7 linked regions of the Homo sapiens genome follow. The protein of the gene in region 4 interacts with the protein of the main gene of each other region in a biochemical or structural test. Each region holds a gene or a part of one and is shown on either strand. Other genes may lie near its edges.

Region 1 (3,500 bases), on a different chromosome or scaffold from region 4:
TAGTAGAGAAGGGGTTTCTCCATGTTAGTCAAGCTGGTCTCGAACTCCTGACCTCAGGTGATCCGCCCGTCTTGGCCTCCCAAAGTGCTGGGATTACAGGCTTGGGCCACTATGCCTGGCCAAAATTTTGTTTTTTAATATTCAGATAGCTATTATGACATCAGGCCTGCTGGGGTAACCTCACCCCAGGTGATAGCAGGACCGCAGCAAGTCTTGTCATAACACATCCAGGGGCAACATCGCTCCCAAGATTTTGAGCATGAGGAACCTTGCTTAGCATTTCATGAGCACTGGAAATGTAACGGGAAGGCTCACTGCTAAGAGGATTATTTGTATTCCCTAAATGTCACTTATATATGGAATGATGGAACTTTCTTTTCTATGTAGAAATTTCAGCTGATGATCACAAAATGAGAACAATTGGTAATAAATACACGCAGCATTCTTAAATGAGGTATCTCCTAAGGGTTTCATAAGAGGTGGCCAAACTGGCCCCTAAACCATCATCTCCCATCATTCACCTTCAGCCCACAGAAGTATAGTGATCAATTGATTTGAGAAGAAATTATAGGAGTAAAGACAGTAATAGAAAGGGGTACTTCTGCCTGTAACACCCAACAAAATAAGTGAGGGGGCTACAAGTAAACCCCTTAGGGAATTTGGAGGTAATTGTATAATAGGAGATTGTCACCCCACTTCCTACCTGTTTATTTTGTGACTTGCAAAAATTGACTGCCTCCTCCCTTCCCCATGCATGACAGCATTCTTGGGAGAGTCTGATGTGTGCTTCTGGAGTGAGGAGGCCCAGAGCTGGTGTGGGATGTGCTGGAGAAGTCTGAAGATGCAAGGCTGGTTGGAACATCTCTATGGTGGGGTGAGGAGGAGCGGTACAGTGGGAACAAGCTGTACTTGCATCATTTGGAGGGTGGGAGATCAGGAACTCTAATAAGCCAGGTAGATGCTGTGGCTGTAAGTTAAGCTAGAGCTGTCTCAAACTGGCACTGTCCAAGAAGTCTACCAGCCGGGGTAAGGAGACTCAGGGGTATATGTCTGAGGTCAGAGGCTTAGGGAAATAGGTCAGTGGGAAAATCACCTACATTAGTGACTGGTATAGTAAGGAGCACTCTAAAAAATCCACAAAAGTAGCCACAAAGATTCCTTGATGGCCAGATTATACCAGATAATGCCAGTTAAGTAAAATCCTATCCTATTGAATCTTGTCTTTGTCTCCTGGTTCCAAAGACTGAGAAATAGGAGAAGGTGGAATCCTGCCTCCCACCATACCATAGGATGCTCCTTGTGGTTCAGGTCCAACAGGCAGAAAGGAAGAAAGCTTTCATTTATATTGGATTGCATATTTTAGCCCCCGACAAACAAGTTGCTTTTTTTTTTACCCAAAAGTGACCAGAAAGCTATCAGCCAGAAAGCTGAGATGTCAGGGTGTGGAAGAGGCAGCCTCAACAGTTTATACTTGAAGGGGAGAGAAGAAACAAAGCTGTTTTCTGACTGTGCCATGTTGAGCCCCGTCTAGTCAATGAATGTATAGCATATGAAATCATATCTCACAACTGTGCTGGGTCAGTAGAGCAAGTATGCTGGCCTCATTTTAAAAGTAAGGAAAGTAAGGCTCAGGGAAGCTAAGCAATGTGTGTGAAGCCCCATTGCTCATGTGTGGGGAGTCATGGATCCAGACTTGGGCATCAGAGCCCAGACCCAGTGACATCTCCCCTGTACCACAGTGCCTCTGGAGGTGACAAGTGATGTGCCCAGAGGCCCGGCCACTGCACACCTAGAGTCACAGAGGGATGAGGTTCATCTACCCTGACTCCCCTGCTTCAAAAGAGGTATTCCAGAGGTAACACATAGGGCTTCCCCACTTCCCACTTTCCCTGTGGTGTCAGAGGAAGTATTTATTTTCATAACACTTTGGTACAAAGGACTGCAGGCATTGTCCATGCCTCTACTAAGTATTGGCCTTTCTTTTATGGTGTAATCATAGCTCACTGCAGCCTTGAACTACTGGGATCAAGCCATGCTCTGGCCTCAGCCTCCTGAGTACTTGGGATTACAGGTATGCACCACTGTGCCTGGCTAATTTTTTTTTTCTTAGAAATAGGGTCTCCTGCCTGAAACCCCAGCACTTTGGGAGGCCAAGGCAGACAAGGCAGATCACTTGAGGTCAGGAGTTCAAGACTCCTGGCCCACATGGCGAAACTCCACTCTACTAAAAATACAAAAATGAGCTGGGCGTTGTGGTGCATGCCTATAGTCTCAGCTACTAGGGAGGCTAAGGCAGAAGAATCGCTTGAACCCAGGAGGCGGAGGTTGCAGTGAGCCGAGATCACGCCACTGCACTCCAGCCTGGGCGACAAAGCGCGACTGTCTCAAAAAAAAAAAAAAAAAAAAAAAGAAAAGAAAAAAGAAAAAAAGAATAGGGTCTCCCTACCTTGCCCAGGCTGGTCTTGAACTCTTGGGCTCAAGCAATCCTCCCAGCCTCCCAAAGTACTGAGATTACAGGCATGAGCCACCGTGCCTGGCATAGTGTTGACCTTTCTTTGACAACAAACTTAAGACAGTGTCCTGTCATCACTGTAACTTTCCCCAAAAAGCTCCTCTGCCTCTGCAGAAAGAGAACGAGCACAGAATTGAGAGCCGTATGCATTTGGCTGAAGACGAGGAAAAGCGTGCGCTTTTTTCTGAGTACAGACAAAGGAGTGATTTTACCAGGAGAGACAAAATGAGAACCAACTTTGCCTTCAAAGCAGGCCCATACCTCAGCATGGCGCCGAAGCCCTTCTTCTTTATTTTCCTTTCTGGATCTTCATTCTCCTCTTTGCGCTTTTTCTCCTTGACTTTCAATTTGCCCTTTTCCTTTTTCTTCTCCTTCTCTTTCGTTTTTTTGACTTTCCTGGCTTTATTTTCCATGTCCTCTAGCTCCGAATTCCCCTGAGGGGCAGACTCACAATTCAGAGCTCCTTGGCCAGAGTGAGAGCTCTTATCAGACAGACCGTCTGTACAGAGAAAAAATAATCAATACCCATGGTCAGGGGCACACTCAGTTAGTATACAGAGAAACGCTAACATGTAAAATGCAAAAGAATGAATAACAGCACTCTGTAGTTCTACCCTTCTATGTGGTTACGTGCGCCCTTTGAAGATCTGACTGCCTAAATCTGGTTACTTCGAGCAAGACTTGATGCTGGGAGTGGGGACAACCGGTTGCTTAGCTGGTAGTATGAAAGGCTTGATATGTGTTCAAGCACTAATCTCTCTGAAAGCTGCCTTGTTAACCTTGATCAGCTCAGAAAGCCTGCATGCTGGGAAACAAACAGGGTGAGAAGAGAGTTTTGAGTACAAAATATCCCAACTGCTTCTACCCAATTAATGCAGTCGGAGTCCTTGGATTGATGCTGCCTCTAATGACTCGAATGAGAATGTCAAGAAATGCATACTTAGTGCTCCTACCCTAAGGGTAAATGACAGTTGGTCCTTGTAGAAAA
Region 2 (3,500 bases), on a different chromosome or scaffold from region 4:
GAGGTTGCAGTGAGCAGAGATCATGCCACTGCACTCCAGCCTGGGCAACAGAGCAAGACTCCATCTCAAAAAAATAAAAAATAAAAAAAGAAAGAAGTAAGAGTCAACCTCATTAAATATCCAATTTGTCACTTAAGAGTACAATAATACCCATTTTTTACACACCTTCCTGCCAGTTCCTTATCCAAGTACTTGGCAGCTAGTCTCGCCCCATATACTTCAGCCTGGAGAACAGCTATATGTCTACGAAGGGCTTCATTCTCTTTTCTCAACAATTTCACTTCAGCTTCAAGTTGTGCTTCTTTCATTTTTTCTTTTTTGTTTGCCTCAAGCTCTCTTTCCTATGTAATTTTTAAAAGCATATAATTTAATGAAAATAAAAACTCTTTAGCACTAGACCATGTTCCTGAAAATGCACAAAAGCCTACAGTTCAACAATGTATCATCTCTATAAAATGGAACACAAAGATCTGGATGTAGTTCTTTTGAACTAGTACCATAACATCTTGGAACTACTTCTAGATAAAATAATTGCACGCCATGGGTTACCCTGATATGGAGTATAGTAAGAAAAGTAGTCTACTCTAAGCTCATGTTATCACATATTAGTAAAAGTGGCTTCAATGGATAGTTGAATCTGCTATTTACTTCTAAAACCCTTTTGAGAGTTAAATAAGGACCCCAATAGACATTTTAACTGTTATTTATAGATCAAAAAAACCACGTAAACACTGAAAACTTGCATTTATCCTGAGCAGAACTGCTTTTACAGAATCCACAAATCCTATGAAAACATGGTTACATTTGTTCACAATATGTGGAAGACATTATTCCCTATACCCCCTTTGTCCCTTTTGTGAGGACGTAAATAAAAACCTACCTTAGCACCAGAGAAATTGTTTCTCTTGAGGAAATGATGAATAGTATTGTTTCTATTGTATGGGCACTGATTATTTTACATAATTATTTCCCTTTTTATTCTGGATATTGAGAAGCTAAGAAACAAATTTAAGCAAATTTTCAGCAATTCATGGAATATATTTTGGTACTAATTTAATGTGCCTCCTTTGGTCTACTGTTTTGAACAACATCAAAATAGATATATTTGAATACTAGTCAATAAATACGATAATCCTAAAAAAAATATATTTACATATACACACACACATACAAGCTAAAATTAATGACAACTACTAAATGCTAGATATATTTATCACTTCTTTGATTAAAAATATTTGTTATATATATGACAAACAGATGAAAGATTAGCAGACTCAATTTCTGGGAAAAAAAAGATTAGAACGTAATTTCTAGATACTGGTTTTAAAGGATTCGAAAAACTCAATCTAGAATCCTCCTTTTAACATAATTTTGGAATTATTAAACTCTTATTTCAGAACCTATGTCCTAAAAGGGCAAGTATCTGTTTCAAAAGAAACCAGTTTGGAGATACAAACAAAAATCTTTCTTATGACATGTTAAAGTTGATGCAACTTTTGAAAGAGCACTCCTAGACCAAGATTTCTTTGGCTTATGGGCTAAATAAACTTTATGTTGATGATTACCTACTTTCAATTACTTTAATGAGCTATTTATACTACATTAATGAAATGTGGGAGACATACTAAGCTACCACTCACTGGGGTTTTAATGATTCAAATCCCTAATGAATCTGACAAACTCTTGGGCCCGAAATTAACAGAGGTAAGCAAGAATAAGATGAAGGAAACTGAAGTTAACCATTTCTAGATTTCCAGAAAAAAATTTTCTTGGTTCTTAGTTAACCTGTTTGTTACTAGGTAACACCCAAGATGTTCATTTTACATTTAGATACCAAAGATTATATCTTCAAAAGAGGTAAAGCCATAAGACAAATTGGAACTTGATTAGGTTGGGGTAATGAGAAAAATATTAAAAATGTATTGTTATTTTCTAAAATAACTTCTGCTAAAGCATTTCAAAATTCAATTGTTTCAAAGGCCATACGATTATTCTCAAGACTCTTGAAAAGTTGTAACGCAGTAGATGAAGAAGAAACCAACATGCACATTCTTTTCTGGAAATAATTTCAAACAGAAACTTAAGGGGGTTAAAAACTAAGCCTGCTTGATATATCTTCAATACCCTGAAGTGGGAAAACCAATTGCTCTTTGAAGTAGAGGTATGAGCAAGCTACAAGGCTCAAAAATTGTCAAAAATTGACAGGCTCTGCAAATAATGGCTATAAATCACTAACAAAAGAAAAATGTTTAACAACATGCAGTGAGAAAAGAGCAATGGGCCATCCACTGAACTTTTCAGGTACTGGAACATTAAAAAATTGCCATTATTAATGCTATTTTCAAATACAATGAGTGACAACATATAATATGCAAATAAAACACTAAGAACACTTCAGCGTGACATATTAAAGCAAAACAGAAACAATATACTTACCAGCTCCTCCACAGAGGGGCCAGACTTCAGATATAAGAAAAAAGTTTTATAATTAGAAAAAGATCAAACAAATGATTTTATTTAGTGGTATAGTCATTATAAGGAAAAATCCCACATGTTGGATATCATTTGGGTAAAGTTCATTAGAACAAATATATTTGCAATCTATAAACAATAGTAACTGTAATAGCATTAGATTAAAACTTTTTGTTTTATCAAAATTAGTCAACATAACTGGTACAGTGTTCTTTTCATCATACTCTTTCAAATTCTAATGTTAAAACTTCAGGTAAATTCTTTTCTAGAGAAAATTTAGATTGTTTCTGAATGTTAATGTCAAATAGCTCGAAGAAGCAGTTATGAGCTTTTATTTCAGTTAAATAAAACCCTTCTAACACAGATTCACAGAGTTAGAAAACTTAAGAGTTTAACTTAAAATTATTTTCATGAATTTTAACACATCAGTACTAGGAACTAATTAACCAAATGAAATTAACTGAAAACAAATAAAACTTATAAATGTATTACTCTCATTATATCATCAACATCATTTCATGTCCTGCCTCTGCCAAGCAATAGCTGTCTTATTTATTGCTGTGTCCCATATAGGAACAAAATATCTGCTATCTCTTACACACTCAAAACATATGTGGTACACAGTGGCAGGAAAAATGCTTACAATATATTAAGAGCAAAAGAAAAGAATGTGCTACTGGTTGGTACCCAATTCCATTTCTTACTTCTTCCTTATTAACAGACTCCAGTTTTACTGGAAGTGGCCATATGGCCAATAGGAGACTGACATGCAGCTGGGGATGGTCAATGAAATGCTGGCAAAAATTACTGAGAAAGATTTAATAATAAGTTCTTTAAAGAAGGCTAACATCATGGAGAAGCATCTTTTTGCCCTTTCCTTAGATTAATCCTTCTTCCTGCCTGAAATGCAGACATGAAGAAATCCTGAGGATGGAAACCATAAGCTAAAAATGGCAGAGCACAGTGATGGAAGGAATCTGGATCTCTAATATTTGTGGAGCTGCCGTATCAACTCTAGACTGCCGGTC
Region 3 (3,500 bases), on a different chromosome or scaffold from region 4:
TGTGGTACGTGCACATATTTTTGTGAATTATAAGCCTTGCCTGGATATGAAAAGCAAAAAGAACTGGCTTCAAACTGCACTTAAGCCACGCTGTTATCACATCTTTAACACAAAGTACTTTATATTTGACTTGAACTTGGAGTTTTAAATTTTTTCAGAACTATCCATTTTGGAATATAGAAAGAATTGTTTTTAACTTATTTAAACAAATGGAAGCACTTAACAGGTGCAGACTGGCAATATTTTGGTTGCTAATACTGCTGTTTATGACCCAGTTAAAATTATTGAGAGTTCTAATAATGCAGCAGTATTCTTCTTTCCTGACTTTTAATTTGCCCTTTGAGAATATATCAACTTTTTTATCAGGTAAAATTGTAAATAATTTAGAAATTATCTCAAATGGAATGATATTCTAAGTATATCGTAAGAGAAATTATGAAAGAAAATTGTCTATGACTTTATTTTCAACTTTAAAATAGGCTACCAAAGGAATTCATTCATAACAGTTAACATTTAATACTTTTAAGATGATGAAAAGCCATATAGCCATTGAATTTTTCAAAATCTAAATGGTTGCAGTGACTAAGTTGAAAAGGGCAACAGCTCCTTTTATTTATTTTTTTTTTTTAATAGGCTGTTTCACTTGCAGTGGCTTTTGTGTTGAAGATGCTGAGTTGTTTCTTAAGAACACATTTTCTCTCTGCTTAAACTTACCTGCTTTCTTCAGCTTGCTGCTAAATGGCCTGGGTTTGACTTTTTGATAACTCAACATTTCTGATAAATGGAATAATGTATATTATCTCTTTACAACTTAAATCTAGCTCATTTTTTTAACCATATTGTAACAGAACACACAAATTACTTTGTACTCTTGAAAAATAAATGAAAATTTTTCTCCTGGGTTGGCTTTATTCTACAGGACTTGCCATCAACTACCCAACCAAAAGGACGACAGGTGAATAGATATCCTCTATAGAAACTTCTCTAAACTGAGCAGCTAATAGCCAATCCTTTATTAACCCTTTCCATCCCATAATGTTTGCATTTTGGACCATAACATTTGAGCATTGAGAGCTTGTACCATTTCATTTTAACACATTACACATGACTAATTCTCTATAAAGAATTTTTCCTCACATCTTTGTAGCTGTAATGGTTATTGTAATTTCAACCTGATAATTTTATATTAATGGTTAAGAATTCAGCCTTTGGGGGTGGCTGTGGGCCTGCCTCTGGCATGCAAAAGAATTTTAAAGGTTATAAAATTCTTAGAATTCTAAGACTAACTAAAAAGTTATTCTTAAAATGCTGATGAACATTTTTAAGCAAAAATTTTCTGAAGTTGAAAGCTTTTTCTTAAATTTGTATTTGCATGTGTATTTCTAAAAGCCATTTGCAATGAAAAATAAGAAAAGAATATAAATTATCTTAGCTTCACATCCTGATATACCTGTGTTAGTTCAAACATGAAAAGTTAAGTGCTGCCTAACACTGGCAAGTAACTTTCAAATTGCCAGCACTTTAGAGGTATAGATTTTAAATGCAAATGCAGAGACTTGTAATTTTATAGGCTGGATTGCTGAAAATAAACAGAAAAATCACACAGTGGTTCCAAAGTCTTCAGGTTGGTTTTACAGTGACTTAAACATTAATATTCAATTTTAATTTCAAGAGATAGAATTTTTATGGGATTTTTATCTTGAAATATGGTATTAAAAATAATCAGATTTAGTGTTAAGATATGTATAAATTAGTACCTGATAGAATTCACCCATAATTTTGTCTTAAGACTGTATAATTGATGGAACATTGGGTATGAATTACCTTATCTTAAAGCATTTAAAAAATAAAATAATTCATAAAATGCTGCCATATAATAAACCCTTGAATGCTAATCTATTTCCTAAGTAAACTCACATATCATAAAACTCAGAGCCTTGAACTATGCATGTCTTGAAGCTCTGTGCTGATTTCAAGTGTTACATTGGGGGAAGCTAGGGTTCAAATTCATTTTTATTCTCTCAGAAGAGTAAAATACAAACCTAAAACCTAAATTAGAAAAAAATGAAGCTTTTTTTAACTTTTAAAAAATTGTTTGAGTTACACTTAACTTTATCAGCAATGTGTAGACACACTGCCAGTTGTCATATAAGCATTCTACAGCAAGATACCAACCCAGAGTTCTTGCTAATTTTATATCGTGTGCTGCTTTAGGGTTAAAACCTATCCTGACTGCTAGTATTTATGGCTTAAAGGCTGCCACGCAGTCATGACAACGTATCCATAATGCCAGCATCACCAATGCAGGTTTAAAAAAGAGCGAGCATACTTTTCTATAATTAGAGGCCTATTCTGTTACAGTAAAAGCATAAATTAAGTCTTTATTTTTATTAAACAAGTATTTCAAGTGTTCCTTCCAAATAAAAACAGCAAAGTTTTGAAGCTATACTCATCAAAGATTACTAGTACATTGTTTCTAGCGGTAGAAGTTTTTTGTGTCGTATTTCCATGCATCGTTTTTGCTTTCACCATCTGATGTCCTGTTTGTATTGTAACTGTTGGTGTGTGGTTATGACATTAGAGCTAACTTCTCTTTCACATCACTATGGCATCCTTTCTTACGAACTCCTGTTTTATAGATCTATGTAAGAGCACAATTTGAATATGATCCAGCCAAGGATGACCTCATCCCCTGTAAAGAAGCTGGCATTCGATTCAGAGTTGGTGACATCATCCAGATTATTAGTAAGGATGATCATAATTGGTGGCAGGGTAAACTGGAAAACTCCAAAAATGGAACTGCAGGTCTCATTCCTTCTCCTGAACTTCAGGAATGGTATGTTTTTATGCGTGTTTTGCTTTGCTTGGTTATAAAAACAAAGCCCTGACCATCCATTTTCCAATTTTATATTATTTTAGAGTGTAAAACCTGTTTGATATATTCCTTCCTTTACGAGCCAAACAAAATTTAAATTAGTCATCCAAGAATTCTATATCTTCAGTATCTAGTGAGATCCTAGTTGCAGAGTCAGGGCTTCATTTTACACAAAAAGAAAGGAAGGTCTGGAAAGAGATTGGATGAGCAGCCCTGAGCCAAGTCATGGTCTCACAGCAGAGCCCTCCACTCCTATATGCTGTTATAATTGTTTTAGAATGGCATTAAAAAAATGTACGTTCTCCTTGCCCTTCTACATGCTTTCATGCCCATCCCATTCCCACCACCAGCAAAAAATGTAGGTGCAGTGCTTCAGTGTCACTCAGAGTATTTGAAGATAAAATGTATTTCACTGTTAGAAGGAGGTAGTCAGAAGCTTTGTTCTTTACCTTGCCAGTCCTTTAAAAATACCTTTTCTGCTAGAAAGTTTAAGCCCTAAAAGCAGGCTAAAGTTAGGGGTTTTAGGCACTGTTTTTAACTGAGAGAAAAGGAGTCACAGATCACTGTATATTTTGATAAAATCTATTTCTGCTATTATTGTTACCGTTTCCTTAGTTGAACTGTC
Region 4 (3,500 bases):
CATTTTCAATTCTCTTGGGTGTACACCTAGGAGCGGAATTGCTGGGTCATATGTTCATATACAATAATGCTATGTTTAACCATGTGAGGAACTGCCAAACCATTTTCCACAGTGGCAACACCATTTTACACTCCCTCCAGCAATGTCCCAATTTCTCTACATCTTTGCTAATACTTTCATTGTCTGCCTTTTCAATTATAGCCATCCTCATAGGGTAGAGGTGGTATCTCAGTGTGGTTTTGGTTTGCATTTTTCTAATGACTAATGATATTGAGCATCTTTTCATGTGCCTACTGCCATTTGTATATCTTGCTTTGGAGAAATGTCTATACAAACAGGTTGAGGAATTTGGCTGAGGAAATGGAAGTGCGTGTGGCTAGGGAGGAGTCCCTCTGCGGGGCATAAACACTCAGAGGAAGCAAGGAACTGTTGAAACAAAACTGACACCTGACGAGGAGACGGGAAATTGGCCTAGGGAAGAGGAGTGTCATGGGACACTCAGTGGGAGTCACTTTAAAGGCAAGGAGGAAATAAGGCAGTTCAAAGCAAAGGCTCCCAGAGGAGGTGGAGGGGACCATTTCTGAGCCTCAGCTCCTCTCACCAGCCGCAGTGGGTTTCCTGCTGTAGTCTGGGCTCCATGCCACAGGCTTTCTGTGCACTGGCCCATGAACCCTCTCCACAGCTCCGTCCCTTTGGTGTCTTATTATCTCTATGCTTCTGATAAGGACACCCAGGCTCAGAGGAACTAGCTTTGCTGGTTAGCATTGGTCCCAGGACTCAAGCCCAGGTAAGTGTTAAACTCAACATCACTCAATGCTCCTTGTACAAGTTTGACAGGGGGAAGAAGCACAGTGCTTTTCTCTGTCTTGGCCCACCCAAACCTAGCCAAGTCACTTCATAGGTAGCAGTGCCAGTCCACCAAGGGGCCAAGCCAACCAGGTGAGAGAGCGGGAGCTGAGGCTGGGAGCAGAAGTCCTTGACCTGGAGCCCCAGCTCTGAAGGAAACCCAAGGAATGGATGGGGGAGAGGGGTGGAAGCCTGTGGGCCAGCTCAGAATGTGAGGCCCCCGCCTCCAGGCCAGACCCTGGACCCTCCACTTAGCTTCCTGGGTATACTGGTGGCATCCTTGCTGTGCCCCAGCCTGTCTAGCCCCAGTTCCAGCCCCCTGGCCTCTCACCTGCCCACTCATGGAGCCTGCTCACCTGCCTCAGGTGATCTCCCACTCCAGCCTCACCTCTGGCTCTCCCTGAAGCTTCAATCCCAGCCTTTTCTGCCAAGGCTCAAAGCCTTCCTGGGAGTACTTTATCCTTTAGAGATATGGCTGTTTGTGGAGGGCAAAGTCCACAGCCTGTGCCTCTGGGCAGGGGAGGGAAGCACTGGCCACATTCCTCCGGGTTCTGAGAGGAGCACGAGTCATGTATTGGGGGTCAGCTGGTCACTGAATGGGGCTTGTCAGGCAGGCTGCCCACCCCCTCCGAGCCTTTCCTGTGGGCTGGGGTCTCTGCTGACGCGCTGACAGCAAACCTTCGCCTCCCTGACTCAGGGCGGAACTCCCCTTGGAAGGATGGTCCAGTCCAGGACTGCGTGTCCTCCTGTGGAAGGGCACTGAGACCCTGCCCTGTGCTGTGGGGCCTTTGTCAGGGGCCACCCCTGACAGGAGGATGGGACGGCCATGGGACTGAACCTGGGCTGGGCAGGCGGTTGCCTGCGGGAATGAAGGGACCTGGGGCAGAGAGCCAGGCCCTAGTTTAAAAAACCCAGTCCCTCTCTCTCCCAGGTGGGCAGCTAAGTTTTGGGGTCCCAGGTAGGCCAGGTGGCTCCAGGGGCTAGGGACCCACAGCCCGAGCTGGCCCGCAATGGGTCTGTGTGTCTGACTGTCAGTCGGTCACTTGGCTGATCACTCATGCAGGCACATCGTGTCCACCTGCTGGTAAGCCAGCCAGCCGGCGGGCTACTGTCTTTCAGGAGAGCTGTCCGTTCAGGCCGTCAGTCAGCCACCTGCCTGCAGCTCCTCATAAGACAGTCAGACAAGTTCCTGAAAGTCTGTCAGCCACAAACTTCGTTTCCCAGGTATCTGGTCAGTCAGAGACTCACCCTTCAAGGGGCTGCCCTTCATGGGTAGAGTCAGCCTTCTCCACACCACCTGAGTCTGGGTGATGAGGAGCAAGGTTTCAGAGACCAGCCTGACTGCAAGGACCGCCTTCCTTTACCTGTTCTCTGTGGGAAAGGCCCAGGATTCTGCCTCCTTTGGCTGCCTCCCAGCAGCAAAGGACAGATCTCAGGGAAATGTGAGGCTGAGAATAGGCTTTAAGGCCTCAGACCTGGGTTGGAATCCCAGATGTGCTACAAGCCCACTGTGTGAGCCTGGGCACATCCCTGAGCTTTCTGAGCCTCAGTTTCCCCATTTGTAAGGTGAATATAACAGTATTTACTGATGGAATTCAGGACACACTATTCTCCAAATATGGCACCTTGGCCACATTTGAGAAAACAGTAGAAGCAGGTCATAAAACCTAGGATAGTCACCCCACTCTGACCTTCTCCCACCTTTCACCCTGAAATAGGTCATAAGATTCTCATTTGAGAGTTGCTGTCTTTGTACCTGGAGAAAAAAAAAACAGCCTTAACTTTGAAGATGCAAGGACACAGAGAAGAATCTGAACAAACAGGCCTTGCTAGGTTCCCCTAAGTGTATCACCATTAGCTCACACACTCTTTGTGCAATACTTCCACAACTATATACTTCTTCATCAAACTTGGCATAAAAAGTCACAAGTTTTTGACATTTTAGGCTAGATGATTAAAAAATAATAAACCAGCCTGGGCAACATGGTGAAACCTCATCTGTACTACAAATGCAAAAAATTAGCCAGGTGTGGTGGTGCATGCCTGTAATCCCAGCTACTCGGGAGGCCGAGGCAAGAGGATCACTTGAGCCTGGGAGTCAGAGGTTGCAGTGAGCCGAGATCATGCCACTGCACTCCAGCCTGGGCGACAGCGTGAGACCCTGTCTCAAAAAATAAATAAATAAATAATTTAATTTAATTCAATATAATAAAAACTAAAAAGTTTAAGAATACACACGTTTTCCCATTTCTTTGGGTCTTCATTTCTGAAGGCCCCTGTGTCATGTAAAACTTATATTAAATAAATTTGGGCCAGGCGCAGTGGCTCACGCCTGTAATTCCAACACTTTGGGAGGCCGAGGTGGGAGAATTACCAAGCCCAGTAGTTCCAGAGTAGCCTGGGTGACATGGTGATACCCCATCTCTATGTAAAAATAATAATAAGTAAATTAAATTTTTAAAAGCCAAATAAATTTGTATGCTTTTCTCCTGTTAAGCTGTCTTTTGTTATAGGGACCTCAGCCACCAGCCTAGCAAAGAGTGAGGACAAGAAATCTCTTCTCCTCTATACGACCTCAAAGAGGTAAGGCCTTTGGGGCAGCTGGCCTGGCATATAGGTGGCCCTTGCTCTCTTTTCCTGATAAATATTCAAGC
Region 5 (3,981 bases), on a different chromosome or scaffold from region 4:
ACCCCTCAGAGGCCGCAGGCGCTATTCGGTGGTCAAGCGGTCAAGGGCAGCCTACCCCCACTGCCCAAGATAGGCAGGAAGGAGGCTGGACACACCCTCGGCCTGCACGGCCTCCCCTGCCGCCTCCTCCCACGCTGGCACGCACACACCCCTGTCCCTGACATGCTTCTGGCATGTGTCTCCTTCCCTGCCCTTGGCCCCGCTTGCAGCCCGCCCCCTGCGCCCCACTTTGCTGGTGACCCAGCGTGGCCGTGTCCCAGAAACCGCAGAATCACCGCGGGAGCTACTGGCCCACTTTGCCAGGCCACAGAAAATGCAGCTAAAATTAGCTAAGGACAGACAGGTGGACAAACTGACAGGCATCCTGCCCTCCTGGCCCCAGCCTGGCCCCTCATCCCAGGGCCGGGGGGTGGGGTTGGGGAGAAGCTGAGGCTGACACTGAGATGTAGTAAGGGGGAGAGGGAGGTGTGGTGAGCCTGGAGCGGGTGGAGCTGGTGACTTCACTCAAGTGTGGCTGACAACGCGTGGCATGCCGAATAGTGCTGGGGAATCTGCCGTCCCAGGGGAGCAAGGGGCACTGAGATGGGGGTGTCATGGGCAGAGCATTTGGCCTAGGGTGTCCCCAAGGGAACCACAAGAGGTGGCTTTTGGAGACTGGGGCATCTTGAGAGGGTGTGCGGGTAGGTGGGGAGGTCGGCCTGGGGAGTGCTGTCCAGGTGACAGTGGTGTGGTGGCCCGGGTAGATGTGGGTGGCTGCAGATGACCTGTAGCTCTTTTCTAGGACTGCAGGGTGGGTGGGCTGGCTTGCTGGGTACTAGGGGCTCCACTCTGAGGACTGGGGGTGTTAGGAGGGAGGCTAAGAAGTGAGAGGAGGGTCTGGGGAACTGAGTGGGGGATCATCTCTAGATCCTTGCTGTTCTCCCTTGAGGTGGCCTTATGAGGGTGGAGCCCCTTCCAAATGGGGTCCGCCTCCCTTCTGTTCTCCCCCAACTCCCACCCCAGCACCGGAAACCAGAATGTCTGGTCTGGTCCCTCCCCCCAACACCAGGCCCGGTTCCTGCACCGTTGCCATGGAGATGGGAAGCAGTGGAGGGTACTGCTGACTTTGGGGGAGTGGGGATGGGCTGGGGGGTTGGGAAAGGGAAGACTAAATGTGTGTGGTGGGAGGAGAGTTCCAGGAGGTGTGGGCGAGCGAGCCTCTAACCCAGGGCCGGCGGACCCCTCCCCCACGCGCGGCAGCGCTGCGAAGCCCCCTCCCCCTCCAGGTACCCAGCCACGCCGCCCCACCTCGTCCCTGCGGAGACCCCGGCTGCCTCCTCCCTGCCCCGCCGCACAGCCCACCTCGCGATCTGGGGCCCGCAGACACTCCCCCTCGGCTGACCCTGGCTGACCCCCAGCCTCAACCCCGCTCGGAGGGGGTGGCCGGTGGGATGAAAGAAAAGCTGGCTAGGGCCCCCCGCGCGTACGGCTGCCCCAGCCCCCCCGGGCCGGCTCCGGCCCCTCCCCCTCAGGGCTCGCGGGAGGGAGCGGGCACGCTCCGCCGGGGCGGCATGAATCAAACGCTCCGCGGCTAAGAATAGCTGGCACGCAGCTGGTACCGAGACGGGCTGAGGAATCGGCGAGGGGGGTGGTGGAGGACGCGAGAGAGGGGGTGCCCTGGGAGGCTGTGGGGGGACAGGGGGCGGCTGGCGTGGCCGAGAGCGGGGCCGGGGAGAATGAATGGAGGCGGAGGGAGGCGGGGAGGGGCGGGGAGAGAGAGCCGGAGCCGAGGCTGGGAAACTGGTGGGGGAGAACCCGGCCGGGGAGAGGGGCGGGGGGCACCGGGGAGCAGGAGTCGGGGGCGGGAGCCGAGGGGGCGCGCCGGCCGGCGGTGTAGGGACTGGAGACCTGGTGGGGACGCAGGGAGCTTGGACAGGGGTGGAAAGGGACTGGAGGAGCCTGGAAGGAGAAGCGGGAGCTGGAGGGGTCGAAAGGGGCGGAGGAGGCCCGGGCCTAGACCCTCGCTGGAGGGGAGTGGGGACCAGGGTGACCTGGCGGAGGGGCCCAGGTACGCCAGGGAGGGCGAGGCGGGGGAGTGGCCGGGCTGGGCGGGGAGGCGGGTACCAGGACCGAGCCCTTGGCCCCGGAGAGCCGGGAGGCGGGTTCGGGATAGGGGCTCTGCTGGCCGGGGGTGGGGGGCGCGCCCTCCCATCAAGGATGCGATCTGGGACGGGGCACCGGGGACCCGGGCGTAACCCAATTTGGTGTCGCCCAGGGCAACGCTCCCCACCTCACCCGTACCCCCAGCCGCACACCCAGGCCAGGAGCCCGGCGCCGGGCCAAGGACATCCGGGGCGCCCTCGCCCCCTCCCGCGGCCCCGGCCCCGCAGCTGCCCCAAACCCCCAGGTTCTCGACCCCCTTACCTGCCTGGCGGGGCTGCTGAGTCCCGGTCGGCGGCGCCCGCGGCCCCTCCCCCCTCCCCCCACCCCCCACCCCCCCGGAGACGGGGACCCTCAGGCCATGCCCCACCGCCCCGGAGGGCGAGCGGGCCCGGGGAGGGGGCGGGCGGGGACCGGGGGGGAGGGCGGGAGGGCCGAGGACCTCACCCCCCCCGCGGGCCGGGCCTGGCCATCCGCAGAGCGCCCCCCCTTCCGCCGCGGCCGCCGCGCCCCTCCTCGCCCGCCCCCGGCTCGGTCCGGCCGGCTCCGGGCGCCGCGTCTCCGCCTGCTCTTCCTCCTCCTCTTCCTCGGGCCGCCGCCGCCGCCGCCCGCTCCGCGCCTCCTCTGCCACCCTTCTCGCTCTCTCGCTCTCGCTGTCTCTCCCTCACCCTGTCTCTCTCCCTCCCTCTCTCCCTCCCTCCCCTCCCTCCGCCCTCTCCCCTCCCTCCGGGAGCCGGCGGAGGAGACATCGCCCCTCCCCGCGCCCCCAAACCTCGCCCATCCCCCACCACCGCCGGCTCCGCCCCCTACCCTTGCCCTCCCCCACCACTCCTCCCCACCTCCGAGTCCCCAAATCCTGACTCCGCCCCTGCTTGCTCCCATACCCCGAGGAAGGGGTCCTGCCCCCATAAGGTGCCCCCCCACACACACCTCAGGACCACCCCCTCCCAGAGAGCTCCCCGCCGCCCTACACAGAGTGGGGCACAATAAATATTTGTTGCCAGACTCTACACCCCCAAATTTAAGTGTGAAGGCTATAGATTCCCACCCTGTCCCCCCAAACACACACACACCCTTTCCATTTAAGCACTGGGTCAGGGCACACGTGGACATACCTGGGCCAGGCCACATTTCCCCAAGGCACAGGTGCATAGTCACCAGCTGTAACGGCACCTGCAGAGTCCCCACATACACACACTCTCCAGCGCATGCATGCCCAGACACAATGCACCTGGGGTACACAGCTACAAACACACCCAGCTACATGCAGTTGTCACACCCCTGTGCCCGGGCACACACGCAGCACATGCACACATTTGCCCACCACACACGCACGTGCGCGCGCACACACGCACACAGGCGTTCACCCCGGTATGCATGCCCAGATCTCTCAACACCAAAACGGAGTTACAGCACTGTAGAGACGTGTGCACGCCTTCCCATCACACCCACCCACCGTGCTGTCCATTGCACTGGCTCGCACTCACCCGTTTACATGCCCAACACCGTGCCATCCTTCCCCTCCAGGATAGTTACTGCTGACATTCCTGGAGCACTTTCTGTGTGCCAGGCTCAGGGACTTTCGCCATCCCCATTTTCCAGAGGGGGAAACCAAGGAACAGAGAGGCTAAGTAACTTGCCCAAGGTCATCCAGCTGTAAGGAGGTGGTAACAAGGATCAGGAACAGGTAGGCTGGCTCCAAAGTCCTCACTTGACAACTATGGTGCACTACTGGGCATATCCCCTCATAGTTGCATATCCTTATTCATCACACACAGACACACCCAACCGTCTCCTCAGAGTTTGCACATGTCTGTGTAGGCACGCATATGCAGCCAGCTG
Region 6 (3,500 bases), on a different chromosome or scaffold from region 4:
CGACTTCTTGTCGATGTCTTTGATGGTGGCCTCATAGGAGTCCCCATTCTGTAGCTGCACCTTGAGCTGCTGCCTGCCCGGGGCAGCACTGTTGCTGGACACCACGTGGGCATTGGTGATGATCAGGCCGGCCTCTGACATGATGAAGCCAGAACCGCTGGACAGGGGCACGTTGCGGCCAAACAGCGGGTGTCTGCAGCCAGGGAGACACAGGCGGGCATTTAGGGTGGGGCTAGGACGCGGGGGAGTCAGGCGCAGTGGTGGGGCTGGTCAGCGAGGAGCAGAGCCAGTGTGTGGCTGACAGAACACAGGTCTGGAGTCCCTCAAGCTCCCATTTGAATCCTGGCCCTGTGACCTGGCCAAGTCACCGGCGCCTGCACCCATTCACAGCCATAAAGAGGTGATGATGATCACCTCTCGCTGCAATTTGCTGAGATGAGACAGGCTGCCTGCGACATGTCAGATGACTCCCAGCTTGCACTCGCCATCCTGACTACGGAGCACGGAGCCAGACAGACCAGGATGCTAATCCCAAGTCCAGGACCCACTTATTATCTGCCTGACCGTGGGCAGGTCAGTGAAGCTCTCTGAGCCTTGGTCTCCCCATTTGGGAAATGGGACAACAACACCTCCTCCGCCGAGTGGTGATGCCTGGGCTCTAAAACGCCTCTCAACAAACAGGACAATAATTGGCCCTAGGGGAAAAGCCCCATTGCACACACAGCATCCTGCAGGGCTGCAGCAGGTACCCAGGAAGGGAGGCTCCCCAGAGGCTGGGGCAGATTCCTGATCATCCCGACAGGGTGAGTGCTGGGAGGGCTGAGAAGGCTTATTCCCACCTCCCTCTACCCTCACCCCCAGGCTAGCTGCCTAAAGCCCCAAATGTGGCAGTGCTGGCAGCAGGCAGATGCAGGACCCGAGCCCTGGACACCCCGAGGGCAGGGGTGCAGAGGCACAGATGAGGCCAGCCTGGGCCCTGCCCTCTGTGAACGGTGTGGAGCTGGCCTGGGTTTGCATTGGTGTCTGCCGATGGGCAACAATCCCCAGTTCTCACCAGAGCTCTCTGAGTAGAAACCACAGCCCCACATCCAGCAGGGGAGGAGGCTGAATGCCAGACACAGCCTGGGACCTTCTCCAGGGTGGGAACCTTCGGGACCCCAGCGTGGGGCCCAGCCCAGAGCAGGTACTCACTCCCTGAGGCTGCTTAGTAGAGATGAGCAAGGAAAATGTGCGAGGGACAAAGTATGGAGGGATGGAAACGTCTGGCACGTGCAGGCAGGTGAGAGCAAGAGACAAAGCATGGAGGGATGGGAGCGTCTGGCACGTGCAGGGAGGTGACAGTCTCTGCAAAGTACAGGAGCTTCGCTGTGACCCACAGGACCAGAGATGGCAGCGAATGCCACCCTGTGCTCCCTCTGAGGCAGGCAGGCCATTGAATGCTCATGGGCACCCTGCAAGGGGGGTGCTGTGGTGAGCTGTATCCCTGCCAAGAGATACGGCCAAGTCCTAACCCCATGTGACTGTGAATGTGACTTTATTTGGAAACAGGGTCTTTGCAGGTGTCCTGAAGTTACGGTGACATCAGAGTGTGTCTGTGTTGTCTTTAAGGGAGGGAAGTCCAGTCTCACAGAGGGGAAGGCCATGAGATGATGGAGACAGAGCAGAGAGAGGGGTCTAAGGGCCGAGGCGTACCAAGGACTGCGGAAAACACTAGAGCCAGTAGAGGGGCCTGGGACACTCCCCCAACATCCCCCAGAAGAAAGCAGCCCTGCTTGATTAGGACCTTGACACCTTGATTAGGACTTCCAGCCTCCAGAACCATGGGAGCAAACATCTCTGTCATTTTAAGCCATGCAGTCTGTGGTACTTTGTTATGGCAGCCACAAGAAACTACTGTCGTCCCTAACTCTCAGGTCTTTATGGTGGGAAAACTGAGTCCCGAGACGCTGAACTACTTGCCTAGGTCAGGCGGGCAGGCAAAGGGCAAAGCAGGGGTCTGCCCCAGGCAGCCTGGGCATCTGGCCACTTGGCCACCCCACACGGTGACCCCAGCATCTGTCCACTCACATCCGCAGCCAGCTTCTGCCACACCCACTCCGTGTGTGCCCCAGAGTAGGAACTGCACCTGTTTTGCCTGCGGAAGCCCCAGGGTGCCTCACAGGGCCAGGCACCTGCGGGGTCTGCAGAAAATGCCCGCGGCTGCCCACTGGCCTCCATGCCCACACTCAGACCTCAGGTCAGGGGTCACAGCCGGGAGGCCTGTGCTGGAAAAGCATCTGTCTCATCTTTGCTGGGTCTCACCCACCCACTCAGAGCATCAGTCACTGGAGGCTCTGAGGGCAGAAACGGCCTCCCAGCCGGGCTGGAGTCAGTAATTAGTTGGTTCAGAGCCTGGTGGCTGGGGCCTTCCAGAAAGATGCTGCCCCCATCCCTACCTCCTGGAAGGCCAGCAACGTGCCACTTAGTGCATCCAGTTATAATTTCCTCAATGACATGTCTCAGGGCCCGGGGCTCGAGGGAAGGGCAGTGAGGGGTCAGTGTGCTGCCAAGGGGGCAGTGAGAGGTCCATCAGCACGGGGCACCGGACAGGGTGGCAACCAGGGCTGTGGGTCCTGCATGGGTGGTGCCTCCAGGGCTGTTTTGAGAAACATGGGCTACACAGCCCACAGCCCAGGGAGCTCCCAGCAGGTGTGGAGGATGTGATGCTGAGGTGCTATATGCCCGTCACGCGCTCTCACACCCCTGTTCAAGGAGCACGACCTCTGCTGGAGAGCCCGGGATGGGGAGGGCAGAGGGGCCGTGACGCCTAGTGACAGGGGCTTGGACCAGACAAGCGCCGAGCCAGCCAGCAGGGAGGCGGTGCTGGAGCAGGAATCACTCCTGGGATCTCCCCATGAGCCACCAGATGCTCAGTCCCCAGGGCCGGGCCTAGGGCAGTGGAGCCTCGTCACAGGGAGGCTGGAGGCCTCAGGGAAAGTACCGTGAAAACAAGCAAGTCCCTGGAGCCCTGGCCTGCGGCCTCTGGTGACTGCTCATTGCCGGCTCCGTGTCCGCCTGGACCCGCCGTCTGATCCCTATCAGGGTGGAATGAGGCTTGGTTCCGGGGCCTCCTCATCAGGCTGTTTGCCGGCTCTGTGCACACCCAGGGACCAAAGGGCCAGCAAAGGTGGATGGGAGAAACACTCTAAACTTCAGAAGAGTCATTCAGTCTGCTTCTGCGGGATATAAGTCAATCTGGGATGAGCCCTCAGGATTCGGTGTGAGCGATCAGACATTGGGCAGCTTGCACAGCGGGAGGTTCTGAAGGCAGGGCTCCCCCAAACCAGCTCAGAGGGTCTCTGTGATGGGGGAAGTAGGAGAGGCTGGGGATGGTGGCAGGGACCGGGGCAGGCCCTGTGGGAAGAAGGGGAGGAGGCTTTGCCTGTGCATCTGCAAGGAGAGGCCTTGCTCGGGGGTGAAGCCACACGGTACACACCACTTCCTCTACGGGGCTGGGACAT
Region 7 (3,500 bases), on a different chromosome or scaffold from region 4:
TTCATCCTTCAAGTTCATGGCCATCACCCATCACCATCTGAGAGTACTTAGTGCTCAGAGTAACTGAAAGGAAGCATAAATCCTCCTTGCTTTGAACACAACCCAGGGTTTACCGTATGTTCTTGTCCTGGCCAATGCTAATCAGCTCTTCCCCGCTTCTTCCATCTTTAATGCTTGTAAATCAAGCTGCCCCAGTATTAGTCACCACAAAAGAGATAATTAGTAAGTACAAGCTGCTACCTTCATAGATCACTCTGTCTCTGGCTCAAGCTAAGCCAAGAGACTGGAGAAAGCTAACATTACACAGTATGAGTTGCATTAGCAGAACCTTTATTACACAAAGCACGTGAGTCTGAATACTTAAATCAAGAATCTGCACCCTCCCCAGCTGTTGTAAGAACAGCTGTGATATGAGACCAAAGGAAAGGCTACTTACCTACCTTATGAGGTTTTCCTTTCCTGGACTCAAAAACTTATCTTTAGAACCCCAAGAATTTGAAAGTGCAATGGTTTCTTAATGGCATAATCTTGGGATTCAGATATTTTTAAAATACTGTAACCCCCATTGATGGGGCAGCAGAGAAAGGTGCCAGTTTCTTTTACTAGGACATGCTGTGTCCTCCCAACAAAGCCATGGCTTGTACCTTTGCCAGCCATTTGTCCAGCTGGAAAATAACGTTACTATTCTGGCAGGGCACATGGTCAAGAGCATTGCTGCCTCCTCAGAAAAGACCATTTCCAGACCAGCTAGGAACTTCCTTTCCATGCACTGCTAATCAGATACTACCAGCCTGCCTGGAAGTGTTTCATTCAAGTATTTGTTACGTTGGAGCCGCTCAAATGCAAGTTGGCTTTTATTTTTTCCATCACACAGTGTTTCACCAATTTTTGAGTTTCCCAGATCAACCTCTTCACTATGTTTAAACAGAATGATTCCAAGCCAACGCAGCTAATCGGTACAGTAAAACCTCACGAATTCAAGCCAGGAATTTGAACTCTTCCAGCTGAGGACAAGCACTAGCAGTGTAAGTTGGAGGCCTGTTTTCTCATCTAGAAGATGAGGACATAAGGTTGTATAACCAAACTCCTTTTCTACTAATATTAAAACCACATTTCATCTAATCTAAGATGCCACTGACTATGAGAGGTATGTTCATATAACAGCAAAGAAGATGACATTTTAAAATGTGCCATCAGTTAAATAATCCCCAAACACCAAAGATATCCCCATGATGCATAGATTGGTGAACTAGACTCTTGTGGCTTTGAAATCCATTCAGATGAATTTGGCAGCTTCTCCTGCCCTTGGTTGTGTTGCTTGGCATGAAATAGGCAATCCTTTTTGAATGTTCTCAATAACAAAATGTAACACCACTTTTAATTCCCTTGGGTGCATCTTTCTAAGCAGATAAAACATTTGCTTGTCCCTTTGCAAGAAAACACAGAATTGTGATTCTGCTTCTAACAATGAATATGTACTTCATCAATATCCAATTGTTCTGTTTTTGAGGCTTTCTATAACTTTTCATTTTAGTACTGAATCATTACATTCAAATGGCAATTAAACTCAATGGTGTAATACCAAGTATGTAGGCAACTCAATGGAAGTGATAAGGGGTACTCGTGCGACTGGGTTTGCAGTGCTGGGATGGTGACGTCTGCATCATGACTGCCACCTGGCAACAGAAACTTCACAACCCCATCAATCACACATGCATCCTGATTTTAGACATGTTAAAGCATGAAAAGAGCATCTTAGGATGTACAAAATATGGAAATAGCGACAATCTCATGAGAACTGCTTGTAGTCATGTAGATACCATGACGACTTTAATGAATTTGCATTCTAGTACTTTTGGCAAAAAGTACTAAACCCCTGATAAGACTTAATGTCGATCAAACCTCACAGCAATCCAGAAAGTATATGCAAATTTGGAAGTTTAGCCAGGTAAATAAAATTTCCCTAGATCACCCAGCTATGTAAATTTCAGAGCAAGGATTTAGATCTAGACAATAGGACCTTCCATCTTGCCATTTCTATGATTCTATGGGCAGTAAAAATCATGTGTGCATATCACGGTAGACTGACCTTTGATTTCATCTACTTTCAAAAACATGAAGCATCCCTGAAGTAGGATCTCAAAGGGCTATTTAAAATAGCTCAATCATATAGGGTTTTGAGTAATGAATTGATAAGAATTTATAATTAACACATCCATTATATGCAAATGGACACTTCCTAAAGGGGCTCGTGATATGATTTCTGCCTTCACAACTGTGGAAACTGGAGTGGTTACCTGTAGCTACCCTCCCCACAGTAGAGTGAGATAGTTAAATCACCATTTCCTGACCAAAACCTAGCCTGTGCGCTGCAATGACTTGCCGAGTGGCAGTGTTCATGTTCATGGCAAAATATGGACCTAGATCAGCTCCAACCTTGGTCTTCTGAGCCTCGAGAATGTTCTTTTTCAACTTCTTTCTATTGCACCAATAACTTGCTTTTCTCACAAAGTTTGGTTTTTGTGGAGTTTTCTGGATTTTTTTTTATAGCATGGATAGTGAATGGGTAGAGACAAATATGTTTTTGCTAAAAACCACAAAAGCTGTTTTACTCTCTTAATGGTAGACAACATGGCAATGAATGACACTTCTCAGATCATGGGAGCCCCCAACACCAGGGAGGCCCTCCCAGACCAGCCCAGAGAAAGAGAATGGAAGCCACCAAGCTGCCACTAGAGGATAGCAATGCTGAACTCACTCCTGTGGCTTTGTGGTGAGGGTGATTCTGTTTGCATGAACAGTTAAATATGGAATCTGGGAGGAGCTTTATATTTACGTTCAGTGCTCTGGGAACAAAATCCAAAAGAAGAGTGAGGGTGTGACTAAGGGCTTTCATGGTCAAAATAAACACCAGCAAGCAGGAATTACCAAATAGTTGAACATTGCCAGCCTCAAACCCTACTCATGTAGACACCATGGTGACCTGAATAAATTTGCATTCCAGCAGCCAATGTAGAGATTGCTTTAAGAGAATGCAGTGGGCGTCTTTAAAAAATCTCAAATTATGAATTCACTTGGTTGGCAAATGTATATTGAGTACCGATGTGTGAAAAGGGAAGAGAGGATATAGCGGCAGGCAAATCAAATTCCAAGTTCAACAAGCCTATTATACATTCTTCAATTGTATTTGAAGAGGGCTGACTGAGGAATGGCAGCAGAGCCAAAGCTCTTCTTCACCTCCCCGCTGGTTCTGTTACAGCTGTAAAGGTGCCTCCCACTACGGCCTGACCAAAGATAGGAAGAGGCGCTCACAAGATGGCTGTCCAGACGGCTGTGCGAGCCTCACAGCCACGGCTCCCTCCCCAGAGGTTTCTGCAGCTGCCACCATCTCCTTAATGACAGACGAGCCTGGCCTAGACAACCCTGCCTACGTGTCCTCGGCAGAGGACGGGCAGCCAGCAATCAGCCCAGTGGACTCTGGCCGGAGCAACCGAACTAGG

The links.
Region 1: the proteins of SLCO2B1 (region 4) and PARD3B interact in a test that uses a peptide from one of them, tested with the Homo sapiens proteins (one large-scale study listed by IntAct).
Region 2: the proteins of SLCO2B1 (region 4) and GOPC interact in a test that uses a peptide from one of them, tested with the Homo sapiens proteins (one large-scale study listed by IntAct).
Region 3: the proteins of SLCO2B1 (region 4) and CASK interact in a test that uses a peptide from one of them, tested with the Homo sapiens proteins (one large-scale study listed by IntAct).
Region 5: the proteins of SLCO2B1 (region 4) and SHANK1 interact in a test that uses a peptide from one of them, tested with the Homo sapiens proteins (one large-scale study listed by IntAct).
Region 6: the proteins of SLCO2B1 (region 4) and HTRA3 interact in a test that uses a peptide from one of them, tested with the Homo sapiens proteins (one large-scale study listed by IntAct).
Region 7: the proteins of SLCO2B1 (region 4) and LNX1 interact in a test that uses a peptide from one of them, tested with the Homo sapiens proteins (one large-scale study listed by IntAct).

What each region holds. Positions count from the first base shown.
Region 1 is NC_000002.12:205,300,975-205,304,474, reverse strand, and holds part of PARD3B (partitioning defective 3 homolog B), read right to left. Parts: intron 3,012-3,500; coding exon 2,774-3,011; intron 1-2,773. UniProt on the Homo sapiens protein: Putative adapter protein involved in asymmetrical cell division and cell polarization processes. May play a role in the formation of epithelial tight junctions.
Region 2 is NC_000006.12:117,575,012-117,578,511, forward strand, and holds part of GOPC (Golgi-associated PDZ and coiled-coil motif-containing protein), read right to left. Parts: intron 2,461-3,500; coding exon 2,437-2,460; intron 342-2,436; coding exon 166-341; intron 1-165.
Region 3 is NC_000023.11:41,553,055-41,556,554, reverse strand, and holds part of CASK (peripheral plasma membrane protein CASK), read left to right. Parts: intron 1-919; coding exon 920-955; intron 956-2,639; coding exon 2,640-2,836; intron 2,837-3,500. UniProt on the Homo sapiens protein: Multidomain scaffolding Mg(2+)-independent protein kinase that catalyzes the phosphotransfer from ATP to proteins such as NRXN1, and plays a role in synaptic transmembrane protein anchoring and ion channel trafficking.
Region 4 is NC_000011.10:75,157,607-75,161,106, reverse strand, and holds part of SLCO2B1 (solute carrier organic anion transporter family member 2B1), read right to left. Parts: intron 1,276-3,500; exon of another isoform or gene 1,178-1,275; intron 1-1,177. UniProt on the Homo sapiens protein: Mediates the Na(+)-independent transport of steroid sulfate conjugates and other specific organic anions.
Region 5 is NC_000019.10:50,717,003-50,720,983, forward strand, and holds the start of SHANK1 (SH3 and multiple ankyrin repeat domains protein 1), read right to left. Parts: upstream 2,801-3,981; 5' UTR 2,404-2,800; intron 1-2,403. UniProt on the Homo sapiens protein: Seems to be an adapter protein in the postsynaptic density (PSD) of excitatory synapses that interconnects receptors of the postsynaptic membrane including NMDA-type and metabotropic glutamate receptors via complexes with GKAP/PSD-95 and Homer, respectively, and the actin-based cytoskeleton.
Region 6 is NC_000004.12:8,283,254-8,286,753, reverse strand, and holds part of HTRA3 (serine protease HTRA3 isoform 1 precursor), read right to left. Parts: intron 194-3,500; coding exon 1-193. UniProt on the Homo sapiens protein: Serine protease that cleaves beta-casein/CSN2 as well as several extracellular matrix (ECM) proteoglycans such as decorin/DCN, biglycan/BGN and fibronectin/FN1.
Region 7 is NC_000004.12:53,507,987-53,511,486, reverse strand, and holds part of LNX1 (E3 ubiquitin-protein ligase LNX), read left to right. Parts: intron 1-3,259; coding exon 3,260-3,500.